Homo sapiens: one gene and its partner. The protein of the gene in region 2 purifies or fractionates together with the protein of the main gene of each other region. This does not show direct contact. Each region holds a gene or a part of one and is shown on either strand. Other genes may lie near its edges.

Region 1 (3,867 bases), on a different chromosome or scaffold from region 2:
AAAAGGTGTGGCAAAATATGGCAGGATTGCAGAGGAATATTGAAAGCATGGTTAAGATTAATGATGACTTTTTAATGGCAACATACTATTTGTGATTTTCTCCAGTAGTACTTAGAAGCCAAAAGACTAAAACTACTAATCACTTCCTCCAGACATACAAACTAACCTCCATCCACACTCATCCTTTGCTCTCCCCTCCTACTGAAATGGTAGTTGGATGTATCCAAGTTTAAATTATGCCAGGAGCACGCCCCAAGACACAGTGGTACAAGGGAATTTAGGATAAGGGTAAGAATGTTTGACATGATAGACCATGCAACCTGTGTTATTACATTTTTCTCTTTTGGCCTACCTGATAAAAAGCAACCTGTATTATCAAAGACTGATTTATGGACAATAAAGTGATGCATGCTATTTATCTAGACATGCTGTTGAAGAACAGGTGTAATGAAAGTAAACTGGAAAGACTTAGAGCGATGCATAGGGTTTTGATTTTGGAGACGAACAATTACAAAGAACATAGCTATAGGAATGGGTATCTGAAATAGAAGTGTGACTACTTTCTACTTTTTCAATTCTTTTAGTTTTATGATATACTGCTTCCCTTCCACAAATACTGATTGACCCTGTTCTAGAATCTAAGGGATACAGGAGTGCACAAAGCAGAAAAAGTCCTTTCTCTAATGAAGCTTACATTTTAGCAATGGTTTTGAAATGGTCCAATCCTAATTTTGAATTTCTTTCATGCTGTTTTAAAACTTTGGGGTTTTTTTGTTTGTTTGTTTGTCTATTTGAGATGGAGTCTCGCTCTGTCGCCCAGGCTAGCATGCAGTGGCGCGATCTCAGCTCACTGCCAGCTCCGCCTCCCGGGTTCATGCCATTCTCCTGCCTCAGCCTCCCTACAGGCACCCACCATCACACCCGGCTAATTTTTTTTTTTTTTTTTTGTATTTTTAGTAGAGACAGGGTTTCACCGTGTTAGCCAGGATGGTCTCAATCTCCTGACCTCGTGATCCGCCCACCTCGGCCTCCCAAAGTGCTGGGATTACAGGTGTGAGCCACTGTGCTCGGCCAAAACTTTGTCTTTATAGCTCAAAATTTCCACAATACTTTGACATGTATTGTTATTTGATCCACTGAGAAGTGAGGATTACTGCCATATCAAAAATGAAGAAATTCAGACCAAGAGAAGTTAAGTTCAATAAAACAAATGTTTACTGGCTATCTATGTGCCAGCCATACACCCTGTTAAGCTGAGGATATAGTGATGAATATGGGCCACTGTCAGCTGTTCATAGATAAGTAGTGAAGACAAATAATTGCAAGACTGGTAAATGTTATAAAAAGGTGTTTGACAGTCCCATCGGGGGTGAGATGGGAGGCAGTAACAGATCATCAGACATTAGATTCTCATAAGAAGTACACAACACAGATCCCTCGCATGGGCAGTTCATAACAGGGTTCACACTCGCATGAGAATCTAATGCTGTCGCTAATTAGACGGAGCTCAGGAGGTAATGTTAGCGATGGGGAGTGGCTGCAAATACAGATAAAACTTCACTCAGTTGCCCACCACTCACCTCCTGCTGTGCGGCCCAGTTCCTAACAGGCCACAGGGACGCCTGTTCTAAAAGATACCTGAGCCTTGACTAGCAGTTGGCAATAGATACAGGGAGATCATTTCAGAGGCTGCTATAATGTAGTAATAGTTAACATTTATGAAGTGTTCTGCTACACACTGGCTAAACACTCTATAGGAATTGTCTTCTTTAATGTGCCTAACAGCACTTCAAGGTAAATAGAGCTGGTCATGGACTTACTGTAGTTTCGCTTAAGCTTTTTGGCTTTACAATGGTTCAAAAGCAACACATATTCAGTAGAAACTTTACCCATACAAACATTCTGTTTTTCACCTTCAGTACAGTATTCAACGAATTACATGAGATATTCAACACTTGTAGGCCTTATGTTAGATGATTTTGCCCTATTGTACGCTAATAAATTAAGTGTTCTGAGCACCTTTAAGGTAGGCTAGGCTAAACTACCATGTTTGGTAGGTTAGGTGTATTAAATTTATTTCCAACTTCTATTTCCTTTTCTAAGAGACAGGGTTTCACTCTTTTGTCCAGGCTGGAATACAGTGGAGTGATCATAGCTCACTGCAGCCTCGAACTCCTGAGCTCAAGCAATCCTCCCACTTCAACCTCCCCAGTAGCTGGGACTACAAGCACATACCACCACACACTGCTAATTTAAAAAAAAACTTTTTTTTTTAAGACACAGGGGTTTCATTATGTTGCCCAGGCTGGTCTCGAACTCTGGGCCTCATATGATCCCTCCCACCTCAGCCTCCCATGTAGCTACATTTACAGGCATGAGCCACTGTGCCTGGCTCTCAATTTATGGTACTTTCAATTTATGATGGGTTTATCAGGATATAACCCCACCCTAAGTTGAGAAGCATCTATATATAATTATGATCCCCATTTTTCGGATGTAGAAAAATGAGGTACACAAGTTATAGCTTGCCTAAATTCACCCAGCTCATAAGTGGTCGTCTTAATCCAGAGCCCTTGTTCTTTTTTCTTTTTGAGACAGAGTCTTGTTCTTGTCTCCCATGCTGGAGTGCAATGGCACAATCTCGGCTCACTGCAACCTCTGCCTCCTGGGTTCAAGTGATTCTCCTGCCTCAGCCTCCCAAATAGCTGGGATTACAGACACCCGCCACTACACCGAGCTAATTGTTTGTATTTTTAGTAGAGACGGGGTTTCACCAGGTTGGCCAGGCTGGTCTCAAACTCCTGATCTCAGGTGATCCAGCCACCTCGGCCTCCCAAAGTGCTGGGATTACGGGCGTGAGCCACCATGCCCTGCCGAGCCCTTGTTCTTTTTTTTGGAGACGGAGTCTCACTCTATTGCCAGGCTGGAGTGCAGTGGTGCAATCTTGGTTCACTGCAACCTCCACCTCTGGGGTTCAAGTGCTTCTCCTGCCTCAGCCTCCCAAGTAGGTGGGACTTCAGGCATGTGCTACCACACCCGGCTAATTTTTGTATTTTTAGTAGAGATGGGGTTTCACCATGTTGGCCAGGCTAGTCTCGAGCTCCTGACCTCAGGTGATCCACCCACCTCGACCTCCCAAAGTGCTGGGATTGCAGGCGTGAGCCACCATGCCCTGCCGAGCCCTTGTTCTTAACATTACTATATCAGGCCTCTCCCAGCAGTCTAGATGAGATGATGGTCATTTAGACAACAGTAGTGGGAATGAGAAATAAAAAAAGTGTCTAAGGTACACCTGTCTGATTTAGTGACTGACAGGAAGTCTGGTGGCAAAAGAAAGGGAGAAGTTAATAATGACAGCTAGATTTGAACAAATGGAGAATTTTGGTGAAATACCAGGTTTGAATGGAAAAGATAATGAATTAGTTTTGTTCTGAACAAAAGACATCTCAGAGATATCTAGAAAGAAGAAAAAAAAGGATATATCAGCTTAAAGGACAGAAAGGTCTAGGATATATCAGTTTAAAGTCAGAAAGGTCTGGGCTGGAAATATAGATTTGAGAGACCTTACCATATAATTGAAGTTACTGAAGAGATGGAAGAGTATGAGGCCACTTGGACAAATATGTAGAATGAAGAAAGGACTAAAACATAATCCTGAGGAAATGAACATTAGGAATCAAAGGAGACTGACATGGAGTGGCCAGGAGTAGGAGGGTCACATAGGGTAAGCTGTAGTGCACCTAGTTTCAGTGCTCTTCCACTCAAGTGCCTAAATACGGTGACAGGGCTGCACAGACATAGTATTTATGGTTCTAGTGCCTTTACAGCCCCCACCCCCTAAAAGAGACAAAGACAGAGAATTCTTTT
Region 2 (3,842 bases):
CTGTCCCAGCAAGTTAACTTTACACATCCATTTCATCTCTCCATGTAAGGTGTTGGCCCTGGTCTGGTAAAACACCCACAATAGGAACATTTTACAGGAAACTCATTCTACTCATAACTCAAAATGGAATGGCCAAGTGTAGGCTGGGCATGACTGTGAAGTCAGAACCACTGAATTAGGAACATCAATTGGAAGCCTCTGAACCCCCCTCCCCTTTTCTACCAAATTAGTAAATCCATCCTGCCTTCCTGGAAGAATCGCAGAGATCAGAGCCGCCATCAGAGGCTTGAAGGGTGGCAAAATTCTGCCAACCAACTCCTGGCTCACACTAGGAAACTTAGCACTTTGGGAGGCTCAGACACGAGGACTGCTTGAGGTCAGGAGTTTGACACTAGCCTGGACAACATAGCGAGACCCCATCTCTACAAAATGTTAAAAAGAAAAAAAGAGTTAGGTGTGGTTGTGTGCATCTGTAGTCCCAGCTACTCAGGAGACTGAGGTGGGAGAACTGCTTGAACCTGGGAGGTTGAGACTGCAGTGACTGTGGGAGCCCAGGGGGTTATGGTGAGCCATGATCACGCCCCTGCACTGCAACCTGTGCGACAGAGGGAGACTTTGTCTCTTCAAACAAATAAAGAACAAGTACATGAGTTGCTTGAAAGATTCCCAGTGCCTACTTCCAATTCAGAGCGCGGTGCTCCACGCAGTTGGGTGCGTTGCTGGGATTCAGACACGGAGTCTCCCCAAAGCAGCAAGTGGTGATGCAGCTAGGAACGGGCAGGCCAAGCCCCCCACCCAGCCCCCCGAGGTTGATGTCCCTTTCCACTTGACACAGAAAAGAGGCAACTCATCCTACTGCATTTTAAAATAAAAATACTTTATTGATGAAGTCAGACAGCAGCTAACAGTTTGAGAAGCTTGGGAAGAAATCACTTTCACATGGGGGATATATGCAACCTAGAACATATTTGGCTAAGTCATAAAATTAACATTTTTAGTCATCTGTAAAGTGCTGAGACATTTATTTCTGGTGCCTGCCTGTGTTAGGATTTTTTTCTTGTTATCCGTCCAGTAAGTGAAACACTGAAATACACGTTCAGCAGGATGGCGCTCACTAAGTATGCACCTTGACATGATGGTGTGCACTCATTATGCACGTTCTCACGCGGGGCTGGCTCTGCAACTGCAGAATAGAAACTGATGCGTTCTGCAGAGGAGGCGTCTGCACAACAGACAGGCTGGCCCGAGGTCACGCCTCTTGGCCTGAGTCCCGCTCAGTGACAGCAGCCAGCATGGCCTAGCACCAGGAGTCATTCGGAGCGTGCGTGCTAAAGCAGACACAGCATTCCACGTCAACAGGGGCAAGAAGCTGCACGAAGGAACTAAGCAAGACTTCTCTGCCTATCTCCTCTAATACTAAAGCACACACTTTTCTCCTGTGGATAGTCACTCTATTTATACGAGAAGGGAGGAATAATTTGGTGTTGATGCTTGAGTCCAAATGTTGATAGGCACTGAGCATTTTGGTTCAAAGCAAACATTATTTGTGAAATGCTACAGATAATACATTGACTGAAACATTAACTGTTAATTTTTTAATAGAAAAATGCAATACAAAAATATTACTTTGTTAAAATATACAGTACACACATTATACCACTTTGGAAAACCCAGCTCACTTCTGAAAGCAAATCATGCTAACTGGACTGGTAGGTGTTACCTGGCTTTTAAAATTGTTAACAAATTTTACTCTGAAATTCAAAAATATAGAATATAAATAAAAGTCGTGAATCTGAATCAGGTAAAACTTTTAAGAATTGTTAATAAATGCCTGCACTACTGAATACATATATTTTCTCATAAATTCTTAGTCTGCAAATTCTCTAATATGATACAATAGGTCTGACGCTGATGAAGTTTAACATTTAGTATTCACATATGGACTACAGCAGTCAAAAAGAATGTGGTATTTTCCCAGAACTGCACTCAATTACTCGAAAATTGCATCAGTCTTCTGCCTTCGTGAGAAGTGCTTGTAATTACTTCTGCTGTACAGAAGAGAAGGAAGGAATTGGCAGGGACACCACCATTACGCTATTGCACGTTTCTCCCCCAAATACTGTTTTTAATTTATTCCCAACCAGTGTAGACACAGCTTAACCACTCAGGCTGTAGGATTAGCTGAGAAGTCACCCTTGATTGCAAATTCTGACAGCAGAAGGCGGCCGTCCTGCTTATATATTCAGCAGAGGGATCTGCCAGACCATGACGGTCGGCGCCAGCTCTTCCTGGTGGGGCTGCCGGGCCTTCCTGTGCACCCGGCGGTGGCCCTGCCCTCCACAGACCACCAGCGCCGAGCTGGCCTTGGCTTTCTTGGCCCGGCGTGCTTTGCTTCTCAGCGAGACAGGATCCTTCAGGAGATCATAGATGGTGCTGTCCTCTGATCTGTGCTCTAGAGAGCTGGAGCCGTGAGACAAGCTCAGGGACCCAGATGAGGAGGACAGGTCGCTTTTCTGAGTCATCGATCCCAGCGAATCTCCCAACCAGATGGCTGCGTCAGGGTCACCCTGGCTCAGAGATGAACCAGCTCCTCCACTCGGAAGTGCGTCCTTCTGGTCTTCGTCCTGAGGCTCGGGGCCAGGAGCCAGGCTGTCCCTGGATTTGTCCTTGTCTTTCTCGTGCAGAGCCGTGGCCAGGACGATGAATTTGACAGGACTGTTGTGTGCATGGTAGGAGACCATGCCTCTTCCTGAAAAGGGAAACAGTTCAACAGCTGTCTTTTAAAATAGGCAAAATTTGAGACAAGGAAGCAAAAAGTGCAGGGCTTAACCCCAACGCATTCCTCCCTGCCCAAATAACAAAGCCTGTAAGTAACTTGCATACATGAATAATAAGCTACGATGAAAATATCTGGATTATATTCCTCTGGGTTTTTACTTAATGTGAAAAAGGCTTTAAAAATGATTTTCTAAAATAGAAAGTTGTGTTTTCCTCAGCACTATTTCAGTTCTAATACTCCTACTGTACTTTTCAAAGTAATAAAATAGTCATTTTTCCATTCTGCATAAAATACCTTCTTACTTACCCTATGGAAATATCCCAAATTTTCCTAAGTCTTGATTAGAAATATTAACGCCTGAAATGTGTTGGTTTGGGAAAGAAATGACTAAACTACCGGCTGCCTGCCATTTTTCATTACAAAAACGTTCTGGGGTTCAGAACAATTTAACTCTATAATTTGATTAAAATTAGGACTTTCAGTTTTCAGGTGATGTGATTCAAATTTTAAAGTCACGATCGTATCAGAAACACCTGCAGGTCTTCTTAAAGCCACACACAGCCCCGCAACCCCCACACTGATTCTGTAAGCATCACGTGGACCTGGCGTGTCTTCTGGATGCTTTGTGGGTGACATGACATATGGACAGGGGCACGTGTCCTTTCCCCAAGTGCTTTCAGATGAAACAGGCCCCAGCCCTCACCATCATCCTACTCTGGCCAAGGCAAATGACATCACTGAATCTTCCACCGTGGTGAGAGTCCATTTCCCAAAGAGGAGAGTGGCAAAGTGAAGTCTGCAGGGAGCAGGAGCTGGGGGGACTGTGCAGGGACAGGCCCGCTCATCACCTGGCGAAGCACACACCTGTGATCCCTGCACACCAGCGATGCTGCCCCTGGGCAAGCCCCCAGAAGGAGCTTCTGCCCATGTCAGCAGAGCCAGCCACACAAATATACAGAGGCTTGATGTGTAATGCAAATGGGTAGCACCTAGCTACCATCCAAAGAAACACAGTGAGTGCACGTCCTTTCAGGAAGCACCTAGCTACCCATCCAGAGAAACA

What was found.
Region 1: the proteins of ARHGEF10 (region 2) and PTRH2 purify together in Homo sapiens (affinity purification with mass spectrometry; 3 studies listed by BioGRID and IntAct, with this or other methods). This does not show direct contact.

Annotation. Positions count from the first base shown.
Region 1 is NC_000017.11:59,700,931-59,704,797, forward strand, and holds part of PTRH2 (peptidyl-tRNA hydrolase 2, mitochondrial isoform b precursor), read right to left. Parts: intron 1-3,867. UniProt on the Homo sapiens protein: Peptidyl-tRNA hydrolase which releases tRNAs from the ribosome during protein synthesis. Promotes caspase-independent apoptosis by regulating the function of two transcriptional regulators, AES and TLE1.
Region 2 is NC_000008.11:1,955,656-1,959,497, reverse strand, and holds the end of ARHGEF10 (rho guanine nucleotide exchange factor 10), read right to left. Parts: intron 2,750-3,842; coding exon 2,235-2,749; 3' UTR 857-2,234; downstream 1-856. UniProt on the Homo sapiens protein: May play a role in developmental myelination of peripheral nerves.